Homo sapiens: one gene and its partners. The protein of the gene in region 2 purifies or fractionates together with the protein of the main gene of each other region. This does not show direct contact. Each region holds a gene or a part of one and is shown on either strand. Other genes may lie near its edges.

The links.
Region 1: the proteins of GNG12 (region 2) and LACC1 purify together in Homo sapiens (affinity purification with mass spectrometry; one large-scale study listed by BioGRID and IntAct). This does not show direct contact.
Region 3: the proteins of GNG12 (region 2) and GNB5 purify together in Homo sapiens (co-immunoprecipitation; one large-scale study listed by IntAct). This does not show direct contact.
Region 4: the proteins of GNG12 (region 2) and RAP1A fractionate together in Homo sapiens (co-fractionation; one large-scale study listed by BioGRID). This does not show direct contact.

What each region holds. Positions count from the first base shown.
Region 1 is NC_000013.11:43,885,721-43,890,831, forward strand, and holds part of LACC1 (purine nucleoside phosphorylase LACC1), read left to right. Parts: exon of another isoform or gene 1-1,070; intron 1,071-3,036; coding exon 3,037-3,262; intron 3,263-4,393; coding exon 4,394-4,553; 3' UTR 4,554-4,554; exon of another isoform or gene 4,555-4,559; intron 4,560-5,111. UniProt on the Homo sapiens protein: Purine nucleoside enzyme that catalyzes the phosphorolysis of adenosine, guanosine and inosine nucleosides, yielding D-ribose 1-phosphate and the respective free bases, adenine, guanine and hypoxanthine.
Region 2 is NC_000001.11:67,826,307-67,831,417, reverse strand, and holds part of GNG12 (guanine nucleotide-binding protein G(I)/G(S)/G(O) subunit gamma-12), read left to right. Parts: intron 1-5,111. UniProt on the Homo sapiens protein: Guanine nucleotide-binding proteins (G proteins) are involved as a modulator or transducer in various transmembrane signaling systems.
Region 3 is NC_000015.10:52,113,821-52,119,224, forward strand, and holds the end of GNB5 (guanine nucleotide-binding protein subunit beta-5), read right to left. Parts: 3' UTR 1,280-5,404; downstream 1-1,279. UniProt on the Homo sapiens protein: Enhances GTPase-activating protein (GAP) activity of regulator of G protein signaling (RGS) proteins, such as RGS7 and RGS9, hence involved in the termination of the signaling initiated by the G protein coupled receptors (GPCRs) by accelerating the GTP hydrolysis on the G-alpha subunits, thereby promoting their inactivation.
Region 4 is NC_000001.11:111,703,289-111,706,788, forward strand, and holds part of RAP1A (ras-related protein Rap-1A precursor), read left to right. Parts: intron 1-47; coding exon 48-188; intron 189-1,054; coding exon 1,055-1,198; intron 1,199-3,500. UniProt on the Homo sapiens protein: Counteracts the mitogenic function of Ras, at least partly because it can interact with Ras GAPs and RAF in a competitive manner. Together with ITGB1BP1, regulates KRIT1 localization to microtubules and membranes.

The DNA of each region.
Region 1 (5,111 bases), on a different chromosome or scaffold from region 2:
AGACTTCAAGAGCAAACAAAAACAAAAATAGTCAAGTGGGACCCAATTAAACTAAGGAGCTTCTGCACAGCAAAAGAAACTATCAACAGAGTAAACAGAAAACCTACAGAATTGGAGAAAATATTTGCAAACTATGCAGCTGAAAAGGTCTAACACCGAGACTCTATAAGGAACTTAAATCAACAAACAAATAACAATCAATCCCATTAAAAAATGGGCAAAGGACATGAACAAACGCTTCTCAAAAGAAGACTTACACGTGGTCAACAAGCATATGAAAAAACGCTTGATATTACTAATCATTAGAGAAATGCAAATCACAACTACAATGAGATACCATTTCATACCAGTCAGAATGGCTGTTATAAAAAAAGTCAAAAAACAACAGATGTTGGTGAGATTGTGGAGAAAAGGAAATGCTTACACACTGCTAGTGGGAATGTAAATTAGTTCAGCCACTGTGGAAAGCAGTTTGTATATTTCTCAAAGAACTTAAAATTAGAACTACCATTCAACCCAGCAATCCCATTACTGGGTATATACCCAAAGGAATATAAATTATTCTGCCATAAAGACACATGCACACGTATGTTCATCACAGCACTTTTCACAATAATGAAGACATGGAATCAACTTAGATGCCCATCAGTGGTGGACTGGATAAAGAAAATATGGTACATATACATAATGGAATACTATAAAGCCATAAAAAAGAATGAAATCATATCCTTACAGCAACATAGATGCAGCTGGAAGCCATCCTAAATGAATTAATGCAGGAACAGAAAATCAGATACCATATGTATCCTTTAAGTGGGAGCTACACATTGAGTACACATGGACACAAAAAAAGGGACAATGGACATGGGGGCTTACTTAAGGGTGGTGGGTGGGAGGAGGGTGACGACTGAAGAACTGTCTGTTCGGTACTATGTCCACTACTTGGGTGATGAAATCGTTTGTACACGAAACCCCAGTGACATGCAATTTACCCATGTAACAAACCTGCATATATGTACCCCGAACCTAAAAAGTTGGAAGAATAAAAATAAATTAACTTTAAAATATAATATAATTAGCTACATTGTATACTACTTTTATCAGATATCAAAAAGAATAAAATTCTTCTATGGGACTAATTTAATAAAGATCTTTTAACTAGATATGTATATATAGATAGGCATAGAAAAATCAAATAGAAAGGAGGTGGATGAACTACAAGTGAGAGGATAACTAAGGAGGCTCACTGAGGAAGAGAGCTACTCTCATCTGTAGAAAAGCCCTGACAGTTTCTCTCTTTAACTCAAAATGCCTATATCTAGTTGCTTCCCTTTGAACATCACTGTCTGCATCTTCCTAGGTGCCTGAAAATCATTATGTCAAAAACTCAACATTTTTTTCCTAAAGTCTTCTCTGCCAGTTAGGTTTCCTGTTTTAATTATTGATATCCTACCCACTTACAGATAGAAACTTGATGTCTTCATTCTGTACTTCCCATAACCACATATTCAGTGGGTTACCTGTAGAGGCTGAACCTGTCACCTAAGTCCTTCTTGCTTTCATCATCTCCTTTTATCTGTAAAAATTGATCCCTTCACCTGAGTGCCTACCTTTTGAAGGGTATGAGTATGGAGTGCTTAAGGAAGGTGTAAGGGTACTCATTATTGGCCAACCATATCAGCTGAATCAAACCCAGATATAGGGAATAAAGGAAAAATGCAATATTCTTAGCTTTCTGTCTTTGGCAACAAGAAGGTAGCATAAGTAAAGAAGATGGTTTTATCTTAGAACACTGTAAGATGCAAGGCAGATAAGACAAAGATGGCAAGGGAACGATAGTCTGGGCAAGTGGGAAGGGAGTAAAAAGAGGCTGTTAATTGAAATATAATAGATATATTTTTGTAAAAAGGGAGAGATGAAAACTGCAAAACATTGCTGAAGGACATTAAAGAAGACACAAATAAATGCAGAGAAATTCTGTGTTCATGGATTAGAAGTTAGAGAAACGCAAATCAAAACCACAGTGAAATATCACCCCACATCCATTAGGATGGCTAATATTTTAAAACCTCAGAAAATAAGTGTTGTTGAGGATATGGAGAAGTTGAAATCCTGGTGCACTGGTGGTGGGAATGTGAAATTGTGTAGCCACTATAGAAAACAGTATGGCAATTTCTCAAAAAATTATAAATAGATTACCATATAATCCAGAAATTCCTCTTCTGGAAGTATATCCAAAATAACTGAAATCAGGAACTCAAAGAGATATTTGCACACCAATGTTGATAACACGATTATTCGCAATAGCCAAAAGGTGAAAGCAATCTAAGGTACATTGGTAGATGAATGGATAAGCAAAATGTGTGTGCATACAATGGAATATTATTTAGCTTTAAAAAGGCAGGATATTCTGACACATACTACAATATAGATGAACCTTAAGGACATTATGCTAAGTGAAATCAGTCAGTCACAAAAAGATAAATACTGTATTGATTTCACTTATATGATATACCTACAGTAATCAAATGTACAGGAACTGGAAGAAGAATGGTGATTGCCAGGGGCTGGTAAAAGGAAGAAACAAGGAGTTATTGTTAATAGTTGTAGAGTTTCCATTTTATCAAATGAAAAAATTCTGGAGATTGGTTATACAACAATGTGAGTTCAACACTACTGAACTGTATACTTAGAATAGTATTTTTTTGTGGTTATAATAGTAAATTTTGTGGGTTTTTAACCACAATCTTTTAAAATGTGAAAAATAGAAGACTAAGAAGCTATGATCTCAGTGGAAACTAAAAGTATAGAGCATCTTTAAATGGAAGATGAAGAAAACTCCCATTACATGTCTCTTCTGTGTCAGGTGCTTTGTGTAGTATGGCTCATTTAAAAACCACATGATAATGTAATTTATTATTTCTGGACTTTGAAAAATATACAAACTAAATCTGCTCACTTTTAACTTAGACATAAATTCAGGTGAAATTTTTTATGTTTTGACTTCTCTTATCTCTTTTTATTCCTATTTACCAGGTTGGAAAGGTACTTTGTTGGGTGTTGCTATGGCTACAGTGAATGCTATGATAGCAGAATATGGCTGCAGTTTGGAAGACATTGTTGTTGTACTTGGACCTTCAGTAGGACCTTGCTGTTTTACTCTTCCAAGGGAATCAGCAGAGGCATTTCATAATCTTCATCCTGCATGTGTACAACTATTTGATTCACCAAATCCCTGTATCGACATCCGTAAAGCCACAAGGTATGTCTGATTTCATTCAACTGCAAGTTTGATTATTTCTGATTGTTCTAAAATGAAATTTATTTTGGAGAACAATTAATAACTCTAAGAAGAATTTAGGTGGTGGTTATTTAAGCAGCTGACATGCACATGTACACAAACACTCATTTTAAATATGAAATCTGTTTTCATTTGAGTTTGAATAACAGAAATTTTCCTGTCTGGTATCTTTCATTGATTTAAAAGTGAAGGAAGAAATATTTGGCATTTAATTTTAAGAGATCTACTTAAACTTCATATAGAAAAGTTGGCGTGTACTTTACTTCACAGCCATTCCTCAGCTAAATTCTCCTAAATGTAATGAACTATCAGGAAGCTGATATTTTAAAATTATTCTTATTATCTAATTAACTAGAGGAATATGTTTTTTAGAAAAAATATTAGATAATATAAATACACGGTTTTTTACTTTTAAGTTTTTTACAGTTCTTCGCATCTTTTAATTTACAAGGTTTTGTTATTAATAACTGGTGAAAATTATTTGTCATTACTACAAAGGCAAATTAATGTATGTTTTAAATCATGTTTCTATTCCAGTCGCCAAAACTTTACCCAGAGTCTGCCTCATTTAGTACAGATGTGGAAAAGTTTGAAATTGATTCTTAAATGTGACTTTTAAAATCAAGTATCACTAACTTGTAGTCATATTTCATATCATAAAGTGTTCATGGAGAAGCAAGTTTTCTGAGAAAAATCTGGCTAATAGAAGGAAAGGAGATGAAGGGCCAGATGACTAAAAAGCATACTCTGGCTGAGCCAGGTGAATTTTGCCTGATATCCTGGTAACTTTTGTAGACATTTCTTCTTAAATAAGCACTTGATTTTGATTATAAAATTCTGTACCTAGATTATGTCTATAAGACAATATGGAAGGTTGTACTGTGCATATATGAACTTAGGTGATAAATGCTGATAAAGTGTAGCATTTTTTTCCCTGACTAGTCCATGTTCTGTAAGTGAATAACAATATACATTGTTCTAGGTACATCTTTCCTGGAACTTTTTCATGCCAACATCCATACTTTTTTTCATATTGCTTTGGCTATTGGGAAAATAAACTCTTGCTCTCTTTTGAAAAATATTTTTCCTAAGGATTCTTCTAGAACAGGGAGGAATTCTTCCACAGAATATTCAGGACCAGAACCAAGATCTCAACCTCTGTACATCTTGCCATCCTGACAAGTTTTTCTCCCATGTCCGAGATGGCCTTAATTTTGGTACACAGATTGGCTTCATATCAATTAAAGAATGAGGTACAGTAGGTTTTCTCTCCTCTCTCCGTTTTTCCTCTCTTTCATCCCTCTCTCCACTTCTCCCTCCCTTTCTCTTTCTTCCTCTTTTAGCCTATTCCTCCCCTTATTTAAAAAAAAAAAGTTAATTATGTTAAACTTTACTCCTTTATTCCTACAGGGAGAATGATGTTTCTACTTTTTTAGTGATGTAATAGTGGTAGCAACGTTCATTTCCAATAACACTCTATTATGAAGAGCAGCCACTCCTTTTCCTAGTTAATGAAGAATAATTAGGCAGGCTTATGTTAAAAGTATAAAAATAAAACAATTTAATCTTTAAAAAGGTATGTAAGTATTTCCTTTCTCTCTACTATGTACTTGATATCTGTACATTCCCTATCCTCACATCCTTATAACTTTCATGTTATTTTTGAAAACAAATCTTTGCATAAACATTCTGAATTCTAGAATCATAAGAAATTCTCACAAAGAAACTAGCTTGATTTTCAACTAGATTTCCAAATGATTATCTGCAGTTGGAGTTGCCCAAATTTTTATTTTAAAATGACAGTAAGTAG
Region 2 (5,111 bases):
TTATAAAAATTTCCTGTCCAGAAAGCTCCAGTCTTACTTGAAAGCTCTCTAACAATTAGATTTGTGGATTTGTGTTGTCACTTGTTAGAGAATATCGGTGGTTTATTAAAGTGTGAGAGCAAAGGGCTTCATGGTCAGAAAACTTGAGGAAGTGGTTAGCCAATATCAAATTAGTTTTTTTTAAAATTAGAATTATGTGATTTATTGTGTTTTGCTTTGTTTTGGAGTTTTATGTCAGCTTAAGCTTAACCTAGGAAGGCAAGTTGTGAAAGCAAGTAAATTTTTCTGAGCCCTAACTTGGAAGAGAAGCTTGTTTAACAGTGATTTGGGGTGTTGGCTTTGGAGTCAGACAGACTTAGATGAAAATATTAGCTATTTAACCTTTTTCAGTCTGATTTATAAGATGGGGATAATAATGGTCTCTATCTGTAGGGCTTTACAGAAAGTATATGAAAACTTTGTCTTTGGAAAACACTTAAACTGGACTTAACACGCAGTACATGGTCAAAATTATTAGATATTTATCTAGCTTGTTCAAGCAGCAGGCTACTGGATAAATTGCAGGGTGGCAGCTTGAACCTTCCGGAAATGCTAGATAGAGCAATTTCAAATTCTACAGAAAGTAACTGGTGTGTGTGTGTTTGTGTGTGTGTATGTGTGATGTTTCTACCACAGCAATATGAATAATTATGATTAAAGGATTAATAGTTTTAATATGCTTTTAGTGCTAAAGTTACAGTTGCATAGTAATTTTGACAGTCAGAAACATTGCATTATCCTTTACATTTAAAGAGAATTTATATTTCAAATAGTTGTGTTTATTAGCCCTAGGTAAGAAATTAAGCCAGGAACAGAAGTATTCATCTTTAACCAAGTGTAATTCTTAATCAAAGTATGAAAACATGTGACCCAAGGGTATCCGGTTATTTACTTTTGCATGTGCTGATGTCCAAGGCCAACAGATAAGCCATAAGAAGTGTTAGGCTGATTGTGAGTCGTTGTTTTATTTGTAAACTTTCATGAGATTGGGTGTTCAGTTAATTCAGGAAATCTACTCATCACATTGTTGACTCATTTCCTAAAATCTAAAAAATTTTTTAAATGCCTTCATCTTGCCAGGCGCTGTGGCTCACACCTATAATCCCAGCACTTTGGGAGGCCAAGGTGGGCGGATCACCTGAGGTCGGGAGTTCAAGACCAGCCTGACCCACATGGAGAAACCCCATCTCTACTAAAAATACAAAATAAACCAGGCGTGATGGCGCATGCCTGAAGTCCCAGCTACTCGGGATGCTGAGGCAGGAGAATCACTTGAACCCAGGAGGCGGAGGTTGCGGTGAATCGAGATCGTGCCATTGCACTCCAGCCTGGGCAACAAGAGCAAAAACTCTGTCTCAAAAAAAAAAAAAAAAAAAGCCTCCATCTTTAAAACAAACCCTTTAAAGCTTCTTGTTTTTGTCCTAATGCACGTCAGGTGCACAGAATTGGGCTGAACCAGGATCTTAGCTCATGCCACAGATGATTTCTCATTTTACTAATTGCTCCACTGGGACACAGAGATGTGGTTTATAATAATTTTAAATAACTATAAAGGGTACAGTGTGATTATTAATTGTTTCTTGCCTATGACATTATGCTCTGAAACAACTGAAGCATTTGATTGAGTAAATTATTGATTCGTTTCACTCCTAGAACATAACATAATGATTTCTGGCTCATACTTCTAGGTGAGTAGACTGTGAGCAAGTTACTTAATCTATGCTTCAATAAGTGTTGTGAGGAATAAATGAGCTAATCTATGTATATAGCATTTGGAATAGTGCCTGGTGCATAGTCCACATTCAATAAATGTTAACATTAAATTATTGAAATTTTCTCTAAATGTTGTATAATGAGCATGCATTATTTTTGTAACAGGAAAACAGCTATACAAAATTTTAATATTTCCCCCAAATCTAAAAAAAGCTCAGTAATTTAAATAGTCCTGCCAAATAGTACTTAAAAAGTAAGAGAATTAGACAATCATCATTTTGTCTTTTAAATGTGAAATGGTTTGCAATATTAATTTGTTAAACAAGTTAATTCTTCCAAATCTCAATTCCATTTTCTTTTTTATTAGAGACTTTAAAAAATCAGTAATACATGAAGTCTGTTACAGTTTAAAATGGGGAAAAGCAGTATGCACAGTTACATTGTGTTATTACAATTACAGCTAGCTTAAAAATTATTTTTAAACCATAAGAAAAGCCTAGAAGAAAATACAGACAAATTGGTGATGGGATTATGGTGCTCTCCCACCCCCAACCTGCTTTTCCCCTATTTTCCACAATGCGCCTATATATATACTAAAATATAATTCATTTGTGTAATAGTTACTAAACAAATCTGGTTTATTAACTACAAATACTAAAAAAAATTTGCGTAATAGTTACTAAAAAACAAATCTGGCTTGTTAACTACAAATAGCAGGATTTTATTGTTGTTTTGGAAAAAGCACCAACTTTATGGCAGTTGAATGTCCTTCGGTTAAATGTCAAAACCTTTGCAGTGAGAATTGTTTAGCGGTAAAAGAGAAGGCCTTTCAGAAGCTTGTAGTTTGATCTTCATGAAGAATATTTGAAAAGTCTACCAGTGGGTTTTTAGGATCTGCATATAGACCTAGTCCACCAACCTTGACTTTATGGAAGTTGTGACTTCCCAGATCCAGGCCTGCCTTGATGAGCTGCGTTTTTACAGCACCTTCAGTATATCAGACACCTGGAAGACAGTAATGAGGCAGATATTGGTGCACTTAGTTTAACAGGAAGGTTGGATAGATAAAAACTAATTACAGCACAATTGTATATATTATATATCCTGAGCCCTTTCTAAACTCTTCCCGTATACAGTCTTGCTCAGTTGTCACAACAGCCCAGAGGAGGAAGCTGAGGTTCCTTAAAGGTCTGAACCTTGCTCAAGTTGCAAGGACAGAATTTGACCCAGAAGCATCTTAACTCCACATCTCATGCCCTCTGCACGGAGATGGAGGTGCATCCAGCCAGAGGTGAGAGTGAAGTGGGCTTTATGGAGTCAGTTTTGCTTAAAAACTATAAAACTAATCAAGAGAAACATGAGGAGGAGACTCCTTTTAGGTGACCTTCCTGAGGAGAATCATCAGTGCCTCTCCATCAGGCTTGCCACTCTTTAGCCATAGCAGTTAACACTTCCAAATGGCTGCTGAGACCCAGCAGGCCTGAAGCGCACACAAAGGCCCAGTCCTTGGTGACCCTGTGAAGCCTACCTCTTTCATCCCTGGACTTCCAAAGGGGGTCTGGATAGTACAGATGAAGGAACTGACTCGCTAAATCCTGTTCTAGAACCAGCACATACCCACAGATCCTGACCTCCCCACTTTCCTCCCTTAGGAATGACAGGAGAGTAGTTAACAGGTAGCATGGATCCAGGGCAGATGGTGGAGGTGACTTGACTTAAGATAACTTGTAGCTAGATTATTCCATTTATTGGAGAGTCTCTCTTGAAAATCATATCTGATGTCACTTAAGTGTTTGGTTTATCATGTTAGTCTTTATTGGGTGTCGTAAAAGTGCTCAGTTGTGAAGTGTCTGGTTACCATCCTGTGACAAGGAGGGTTTTTGTCTTCTTTTAATGGGTCTGCATTTCAGAGAATTACTGTATAATAAAAACTGGAGTGTTGGCTGGGTGCAGTCGCTCACGCCTGTAATCCCAGCACTTTGGGAGGCCGAGGCGGGTGGATCACAAGGTCAGGAGAGCGAGACCATCCTGGCTAACATGATGAAACCCCGTCTCTACTAAAAATACAAAAAATTAGCCGGGCGTGGTGGCGGTCGCCTGTAGTCCCAGCTACTTGGAAGGCTGAGGCAGGAAAATGGCGTGAACCTGGGAGGCAGAGCTTGCAGTGAGCCGAGATCGTGCCACTGTACTCAAGCCTGGGCAACAGAGCAAGATGCCATCTTAAAAAAATAAAAAAAAAAACTGGAGTGTTGGAGACTGTTAAGAATTAATACTTTCAGTTCTGCCAGAGGGTTAGTATCTAGAAGTTCTAAGAGATTGGTTGCTAAAATCTTCTGTAATTTTCAGTTTCATTGATTGTATAATAAGTGGGTGACTTTGGGCCCAGAGAGTCAGAAGGCTTTGTATTCTGTATGCTTTCTGACACAGTAGGCCACCACTCCCCTTGCAGGCAAGGTCATGTAATTGACATAGGATCCCCTTTAGTTGACCGAAGAGAGAAGTATAAGCTCTGGTTGAACTTGAGTTTGCGTGATCACACATGCTCACTGGAGTGAAGTCTGAATCAGTTGCCATCTCTGCACTTGCATTGTGTGTAGAGAATTGTCTTGATTCAGAATGGCTTTGTGCAAACTCACATGAGCCCATTGGAGGCAGAATCTTAACTTCATTGATGTGAAATAATCAGGCTTTTATTTAGCTTCAGATGGCACTAGCCAAGACGTCCTTGACCACTGGACACTAAACCCTTAACTCCCCACTGGGACCCTTTGACTCAGACCCCAAGCTTGCAGTTACCTCAAATTTTGTGTTGTTTTGGGGGGATAAATTATTGCAGAGGAAAAACATAAGGTTTTTTCTCAAATGAAGACTCAAACTGAAATCCATTAAATCCCAACATGAGCTAAATCTAAGGGTGGAAAGAGGAATCAAAATCTAAAAGCCTCTTGGACTTTATTGAGGCTTATTGAAGACCTTATTGAGATAACATCATCATACCAAGTTTAACCAGAATCTCAGGCAAATTAGAAAGGTGTAACCTTTAGACTAGGTGCCTGAGCTGTGCCTAGACTAATGAAATCTTCTGAATTATTAGACCATGGCCTGCACATTAGACCATGGGGCTTCATGTGGGTATATAAGGTCATGATTGGCTGTGCAGATAAGTTGTCATGGGAGGGTTGGATGTCTGGCCAAGAAGCAGAAGGAATGGATTGTGACTTCTTGACAGGGATACCTTGAACTGTTATACAGGTTGTTCACTGCACAAAAGTGCCTGGGCAAGGAGGCAAATGGGAGGCTCACATCTGCTAAACAAACAAAACCACATGCATCCTGGAGTAGGATTGCCTCTGCTAGGA
Region 3 (5,404 bases), on a different chromosome or scaffold from region 2:
CTGTGTTTGTGCTATTTCAACCCAATTGACAGGCTGGTGGATTGAGGAGCAGAATAAGAGAAGACTCTGCAGAAGGTTCAGGCTGCAGTAAAGCTGCCCTACCACTTGGGTCTTGTGATCCAACAGATCCAGTGGGACTTTGTCCAACAGGGATGCTGTATGGAGCCTCTGGCAAGCACTGACAGGAGAGAGTACAGACCTCTAGAATTCTAAAGTAAATCTAGAACCTCTTCTGAAGATAACTACTCTCCTTCTGAGAAGCAGGTTCTGCCTTGCTACTAGGCCTTGATAGAGGCAGAATGCCTGACCATGAAGCTTGAGCTCCCATCATGAACTGGATGTCATCTGACCTACGTAGCCATAAAATTGGATGTATACAGCAGCCACCTATCATCAAATGGAAATGGTGTATTAGAAACAGCCCAGGCAGGTTCAGAAGGTATAAGTAAATTGTATGAGCAGGCGGCTCAGACTCTTCCAACATCAACTCCTGTTGCTTTGCCTCCTCTCCCTCATTCTACAACTATGGCTTCTTGGGATGCTGCCTATGTCCAGTTGACTGAGGGAGAAAAACCTCCAGCCTGGATTATAGATGGGTCTGTATGATGTGCTGGTACCACATGAAAGAGAACAGCTGCAGTATTCACTCACACTCACTCAGGGGTGACTGTGAAGGGCAGTGGTGAAGGAGAATCCTTCCAGTGAGCAGAAACTCAAGGCTGTCCACTATGTCTGGAGTGAGAGATGGCCAGAATACAGACCTAAATTGATTCATGGACAGTCGCTGATGGTTTAGCTGGATGGTCAGGGCCTTAAAAAGAACAGGACTGGAAGATTGGTGACAAGAAAATCTTGGAAAGAGATATGTGGCTGAATCCCTCCGAATGGGCAGACTGAAGATATCTGCATCTCACCTGAATGCCCACCAAAGGGCATCCACTGCAGAGAAGACCCTGAATCAGATGGACAGAATTACATGCTCTGTGGCTGTCAGCCAGCCTCTCTATGCAGCTGCTGTGGTGTCTGCTCAACGGGCCGATGAACAAAGAGCTCTTGGCAGCAGGGACAGAGGATATGTATGGGTCCAACAACATGGAATTCTCCCTCCAAAGGCTGAGCTGGCTGGTGCTTCTGCTGAGTGCCTAATCTGCCAAAGCAAATGATTTCTTACAGTGAACTAAATAAGTGTTGTTAGAATATAAATTTCTGTACATCAAATTCCCATTTGAACTGGTTTTGACGTCTTACTGGTTTCCTTATTAATCAGTGAGTTAAAAGCTTGGATACATGTTCATGTTTTATTTGCAAGACAGTCATGATTTTACCTTTTTGTACATTAAACTTTAGCAGCAAGAACATTGTTTTCTCTTAGATTTGCAGTAGCTTTGGGGTAAATGATAAATCCTCTGGAACTGCCATTGGTAACTCAACAATGATGAAAAGAACTAAACAACAAATGAATAAATTAACCTCAACATAGAATTTCCAGTCCACACAATATGAGGCAGTTTGTAATAAGACTCGGTGAAAATCCTGTCTCTGCAACTTGGAAGCTGTGCAGCTATGGGCAAGTTATTCAACTCTCCTAACCTCAATCTCCCCATCTAAAAATGGGGCATCACGGGGCTGTCACAAGGATTACATGAATCGGTATATACAAAGTGCTTAGCACAGTACCTGGCACACAGTAAAAGGTTGTCACTCCACAGAAACTTTTATTTGTAAATGGTAAATCCTCTGGCAACGGTGACTATGCTCACTTGCCCCATTATCAGCCAAAACCAAAATGTGACAATATTGGTCTTACCTATGTGGTTTCTGTTTTATTGAGAATAGCTAGTGACTGCTTATTATTTTTTCCACGTTTTAAGTAACAGCTTTATTGAGATGTAATTCATATACCAAAAAATTCACCCTCTTACAGTCCAGTGGTTTTTAGTCTATTCACAGAATTGTGCAATCACCACCATCTAATTCAGTTCCCCCCGGAGAAACTCAGTGCCCACTAACCGTCACTCCTCACCCTAGCCCTAAGTGACCACCAATCTGCTTTTTGTCTTTATGAGTTTGCTTATTAGGACCTTTCATATACATGGAATCCTACAACATGTGGCTCTTTGTCTCTGGTTTCTTTCCCCTGGCACAATATTTTCAAGGTTCATCCATGTTGCAGCATGTGTCCACGCTTTCTTTCTTTGTATTCCATTCTGTGGATGCGCCATATTTTGTTCATCGATTCATCCACTGTGGAACATTGGGGCTGTTTCAGCTTTGGGCTATTATGAGTAATGCTGCTATGAACATTTGCATTCAAATTTCTGTGTGGACATATGTTTTAATTTCCCTTGGGGAGGCTGCCAATTACCGTGGAAAACACACAGGTTGGAAACAGTGACCTCTGCTTCATGGTTCCTGGTTTCTGACAAAGTTAATCTTTCACCATTGGTGTGCTGGTTAGATAACCTTGGGTTCAAAGACAGACATTTCCTGTTGTCACAGTCTTTACATAAACGCTCATACCATACTTACGATTAGTTGTTTATGTGGGTTAAATTAACCATGGAATCACTCCTGATCCCATCTCCTTACTAGAGGGTCTGCATCTTTTTTTCTGGTCCTATTTTTAAAAATAATGATCTTTAATTGACACATAATTGTATGTATTTATGGGGTACAGTGTGTTATTTTGATACATGTATACAATGTGTAATGATCAGGGTAATTAGCATATTAATCCCTTAAATGTCTATCATTTGTGTTGGGAATGTGAAAGTTGTTAGAATTCAAATAGAGTCACTAGTGTTTTAAAAAAACAAACCATGACAAATAGAGCTGGGGAGGCCATGAAGAGGGGATTCTCATGCTTGTATGCCTAATACCAAAAATGATCACAAAAGATTCTGCAAAAATTACAACCTTGCACATAGGCTGCTGCAACCTCACACAAAAATTACTTCTGCAAAGACATCTGCCTAGCAACTGCCTGTCCAACCTCGGACTGGTGTGACCTTTGTTATTGATATTTGTAGCCAAGGATAATTATTTCAAAACCATTATGTAATCCTCCTCATTTTTTCCTTTAAAAACCTTTGTTTTTCTTTTTTTTTTTCTTTGTTTTTTTGAGTCAGAGTCTCGCTCTGTCGCCCAGGCTGGAGTGCAGTGGTGCCATCTCGGCTCACTGCAAGCTCTACCTCCTGGGTTCATGCCATTCTCCTGCCCCAGCCTCCCGAGCAGCTGGGACTACAGGCACCTGCCACCACGCCCAGCTAATATATATATATATTTTTTTTTAGTACAGACAGGGTTTCACCGTGTTAGCCAGGATGGTCTCGATCTCCTGACCTCGTGATCCACCCGCCTCGGCCTCCCAAAGTGCTGGGATTACAGGCGTGAGCCACCGCGCCCAGTCACCTTTGTTTTTCTTTACCTCCTGGAATATGCACACAGTTTACTACAGCACACATATTCCTGTTGCAATGCCCTACTTTTGATTAAATATCTTTAGCGAGCCTGTCTTTGTTATTTAGGTTGACAGGAACATTCAAAATTCTCTCTTCTAGCTACTTGAAAATACACAGTAAATTATTGTTAGCGATAGTCACCCTACAGTGCCGCCAAACACTAGACTCCTATCTTGCTGCAAATTTGATTCCATTAACCAACTCCTCCCCACCCCCTGCTGCATCCTTTTTCTAATGACATGAACATATTCAGTCATTTCATTTCTTTCACTGGGGTTGGCCCTGTGGCAGCCCACGGGAGGCCAGAGTCCCCTGTGGAGACTGACCAACCCTGAAGGCCAGCCTGGCTCCAGCCAAGTGCTGTCTAGAAGCAGGAGTCTGTGGTATGTCTGGAAGAGTGACCCAATTCTCTCCGGTCACGGATGAGAGGGCAAGTGGTTTAGCATGGCAATCCTTACAAAGGATCCACAGAGACAAGATTCACTCGCGGCCTCCCCAGTGGGCCTCCGGCTCAGATTTCCTGGCCCACCTCAGGCCCGCCCAGTCCAGATCTCAGGGCAGGGCCCTGAAGGCGCAGTGCAGGAACCTGCCATGGGTGGGACGATTCTTCTCAGCAGGCAAGTTTGGGAAATGAAGATCTACAAATCCCCACTCAATCAGCTCTTCCAGGCTTGGGAATGGCCTGGGCCTCAGCCCCAGTCTTCTACCCCACCCACTGTGCCTTCCCCAGGCTTCCAGGCGTCCTCTTTTGAAAGGATTTTCAGGTCACAGGCCTCAGCTGGTCCCTAGCCCTTCCGACTGCCTCTCTGGGACTTCCTCCACCGACCGGGGCTGTCCCAAAGCCTCCTCTGAAGGCTTTCCCTAGGGTGGCTCTCCTCAATCATCCTGTCACCTCTTTCTTTGCCAAGCTCTTCCAAGGCCCTTAGTGGTTTCTGGGAGGTCTCACACAGAGGGGCTGGAAAAGGGCTCATTAGCCCAGATCAGCTGTTCTCAAAGCAAGATCCAGGGCCCCCGAGGGTCCCTGAGACCCTTTCAGGGGGTCCTCACGGTCAAAACTATTTTCATAATAATATTGACACTTTTTTTTTTTGTATGGGTGATTTTTTTATTTTCATCCTCTCAGGAATTTTCCAGAGACTACTGGCATGGGAGAAAGATCACCTTGATGGCTAATGGAACGTGTGCATCTGTATTCTTGTGTTTTATAACTTTTTCTCAGTCTTAATTTCTAATACAATAAATATGGATAGATACAATCCACAATGAGCAAGTTATTTGGGGTCCTCAATAACTTTTAAGGGTGTAGGCTGGGCACGGTGGCTTACACCTGTAATCCCAGCACTTTGGGAGGCCAAGGTGGGAGGATCACCTGAGGTTGGGAGTTCGAGACCAGTGTGACCAACATGGAGAAACCTGGTCTCTACTAAAAATACAAAATTAGCCGGGCGTGGTGGTGCATGCCTTGTAATCCCAGCTACTCGGGAGGCTGAGGCAGGAGAATCGCTTGAACCCAGGAGGCGGAGGTTGAAGTGAGCCCGAGATCGCGCCACTGCACTCCAGCCTGGGCAACAAGAGCAAAACTCCACGTAAAAAAAAAAAAAAAAAAAAAGTGTACAGAGATCCTAAGACCAAAAAGTTTGAGAACCACTAGCCCAGACGAAGCTCTAACTGATGAGAATTACTAATTTGCTATATGAGTGGGGGCTGCCTATGGATGGGGAGGAGATGGGGAGAAAAGAAAGAGCTGGGGGAAGGGGAATGGGGAGGAGATGGGGAGAAAAGGAAGTGCTGGGGGAAGGGGAATGGGAAGGGAGGAGGAGGGAGGGAGAAACAGCAGAAGGGGAAGGAAGGAGACCAGGAGAGAGGTGGAACAGGGAGACAGAGGAAGAGGAGATGAGGAATGGGGGAAGATTGAGAAGGGTTAGAAAAAGGAGTCCGGATGA
Region 4 (3,500 bases), about 44 Mb from region 2:
ATTCAAGAAATTTATATATTTATAATTGCATATTTTTTAAATCATAGGAGCAATTTACAGCAATGAGGGATTTGTATATGAAGAACGGCCAAGGTTTTGCACTAGTATATTCTATTACAGCTCAGTCCACGTTTAACGACTTACAGGACCTGAGGGAACAGATTTTACGGGTTAAGGACACGGAAGATGTAAGTATTTTTTCTCTCTGTAAGATGTTATGCCATCTCTCTGTGGCCAAATAAAAAAGTGCCTGTTTTCTCTATTAGTAGAGGATTTGGAAGCTATCTACCACATGCCTGAAAGAGCCCCTGTGACCAAAAGAAAAAAATTTAACTTTCAAAATTAACCTCAAAATTATGTGGTGAGATGTTTAGAAAATGAGGACATATGTGATAAAGTACTCATTGTGCTATAGGTTAAAAAGTGCAGTAGAGGAAAAAGAGGAGCCAAAGAATACTTCATAGAAGTGGGACCTGAGTTGAGCTTTGAAAGGTGATGGTTGTGTCAGAAACAGTGTTCAAAGAACATTATTAAGATCCATAGTGGTGTGTTTTTATTTCTAAAATTCCATTGGTATAATTCACACATCACAGTCTACCTCCCGGGCTCAAGTGATCTTCCCACCTCAACCCCCTGAGTAGTTGGGACTACAGGTGTGTGCCACCCTGCCTGGCTGATTGTTTTTGAATTTTTTAGTAGAGACCAGGTCTCACTATGTTACCCAGGCTTGTCTCAGGCTCCTGAGCTCAAGCAGTCCTCCTACCTCAGCCTCCCTGGGATTACAGGCATGAACCATTGTGCCTGGCCAGGATTATATTCTTAAAATAATTTGGCATATCTATGTAGTAGGATCTCTTCCATTTTTTTTTTTTTTTTGTCTCTTCCTTCTTCCTTCGCCTCTTCCCCTCAACATATACTTTTCGTTAGTATTTGATGAAGCTTGCGGTCCCAACTAATGCATTTCAGTTGGTGGCAGATAATTGCTTATTTATTTTTTTAAAAGGCTAAGTAATGAGTATGTTATTGTTCATTTTACGTTTTTTTCTTCCCACAGGTTCCAATGATTTTGGTTGGCAATAAATGTGACCTGGAAGATGAGCGAGTAGTTGGCAAAGAGCAGGGCCAGAATTTAGCAAGACAGTGGTGTAACTGTGCCTTTTTAGAATCTTCTGCAAAGTCAAAGATCAATGTTAATGAGGTAACCTACAACTGCTGGGCAGCACAAACAAGTGCCTTTTTAGTTTGCTTTAAGTTAACAGCCAGACTTTTAAGAAAAAATTTTTATCTTTTAAGCAATCTTGATTCCATAATTTTATAGGAAACACTAAGTAATTCCTGGAAACTATATTTTTTAGCTTGCATAAGGTCACTTTGATGGCTGTATGAGGATACTTAAATTTACCTTATTGTAAAAGAGGAAGCTAAAATTGAAGAATGTGTGTAAAATCCTGCTAAGCCTCTAAGTGATATGCGATAAAGTGGTGTGTAAAAATTGTTACATCACCTTATATTGTAATAATTATTTACCCAAATGTATATAAATAGGTTGTAAAGTCAAGTTGGAAAATAATATGTTTTTATGGATATCACAGAATTGTGTTCTGAGTCTTACCTCACCTTTGGTGCATGACTCATAAGTGGGTAATCTGTGTGGGTATGGACATGTACCTGGAATTCACTCAGTCCTTTAGGCCTGATACAGCTGATGCACAAGGCTTTTGTGTGGGGCATGGGGGTGGGGTCACTGGGTTAAGCACTCCACTATCTTGAAAACAGCTGTGGACAAGAATACTTAGCAAATAAGCTGCATGCCTGGGTGTAAAGGGCCAACAGTTTACTAGTTTACTGGGCCCCTAAAAATTTAGAGCAATTTCCAACTGTCCCCACCAGTCAACCTTAAATAGTTCCCTTGCTTTTGTTAACCTTAACATAAGCCTTTTAAAAAAATAAAAACAACAGAGTGGGCTTCTTTCCTGCCGTTGCTTTTGCCATTTGTAGCATTACAGGTAATCAGTCAGAATTCAGATCACTTAACTACATAGGTGAGAGTGAGAGTGGGTTAAGTTATGAGTCCTCTGTTTTTGCTATTCTCTCTGGCCTGTGGTTCTGCTGGCCACTTTTTCTTGACTAATATTATGCTTATAGACTATTTGACTTTTAAAAATGACCAGGTTACTTTAAACACCTGGCAGGTAAAAAAAAATTAAGCTTGCTTCAACTTCTGTATTTTACAGATAATCAAGAATGCCAAAGCTTGTTTTTTTATGTGAAACCATTTTTAACAAGTACATAAAAACAAGAAATTTATAAATTGTATTTATTCAGCAAATATTTATTGACTATTGTGTGTCTGGCACTGTGTCAGGCCCTCAGGTAACAGTCACTCAGACAGACACTATTCCTGCCCTGAAGAAGTTTGCATCCTACTGGGGGAACAAGTCTTTCAGCAATAATTAAAGAAAAAAAGTGATTTTGATAAAGAATTTGTTAGAAATTGTGAATATGTTTGGCTAGCAGAACAGTGACATGAGGTCACTATCTACAAGATAATTGGCCTTACGGGATGTGGTTCCTTGCTGTCCTTGTCCTTACCTCCATGGGACCCACCAACCAAGTTCATCAGACTCCAGGCTCCGGTGGGGCTGGGTTGGGCCTGAGTCCAGTGCATAGGACTTCTCCCTTTGGGAGCCAGAGGACAGTACACTACATGTTTGTGAGAACCTACATGCTATTAAACTTCCTCTGGATTAGTTTCCAATGCAGCAGAGATACTTTTTCATAGCAGTCTTGTTAAAGCAGAGAGTTTATAAACGAGGGTTTATAAAAACAAACATAGAAAAACCATAAAATGAAATGCATTAGCCATCTCAAGAATCTTTACTTTTTGGAAAACATACAAACTTTATGCTCAGTTCTTGAGAGTGGGGAGAATGGAGCAGATAATTTGAGTTTCTTTTAATATTTTTCTCTTTATAACCCAATAATCCAGCTACAGGATTTCTTTGGTAGTTAATAGTTCCTCACACAACTTTTGCCTTGTAAATTTTTTTGTGAGTTTTGAATGCCTGAAGTATAGAGAGATACTTTCAAAAATTCACCTCTTGGCCTTAAATTTGAAAACAGACACCAGGACATACTGCTTGGCTAAAGAGCCCCCTAATTCATTCATATATATATATATATAATTTTTCAAAAACTCTTATTCACACCACTTTGCAACGTTCTTAAAGTAGTATATGGCTATGCCAGAATCACAGTAGTCTTAATCAAGAATTAATTGTTCTTTGCTGAGGCTGGAATAGTAATTGGAATCAAGACAACCCAATTTAGGAATGGGAGAGGGATTGAGAAACTCTATTCTGTGTTCCCTTTAGATTTTTCTATAGTTCAGAGAGATGAGGAAGAACCTAGGCTGGGGCCTTTCAGCATTTCTAACCAAATATTATAGTTCGAACTTGCCCTCATCACTGAACCATCTGCTGCTGTGAGGTAGGCAATGT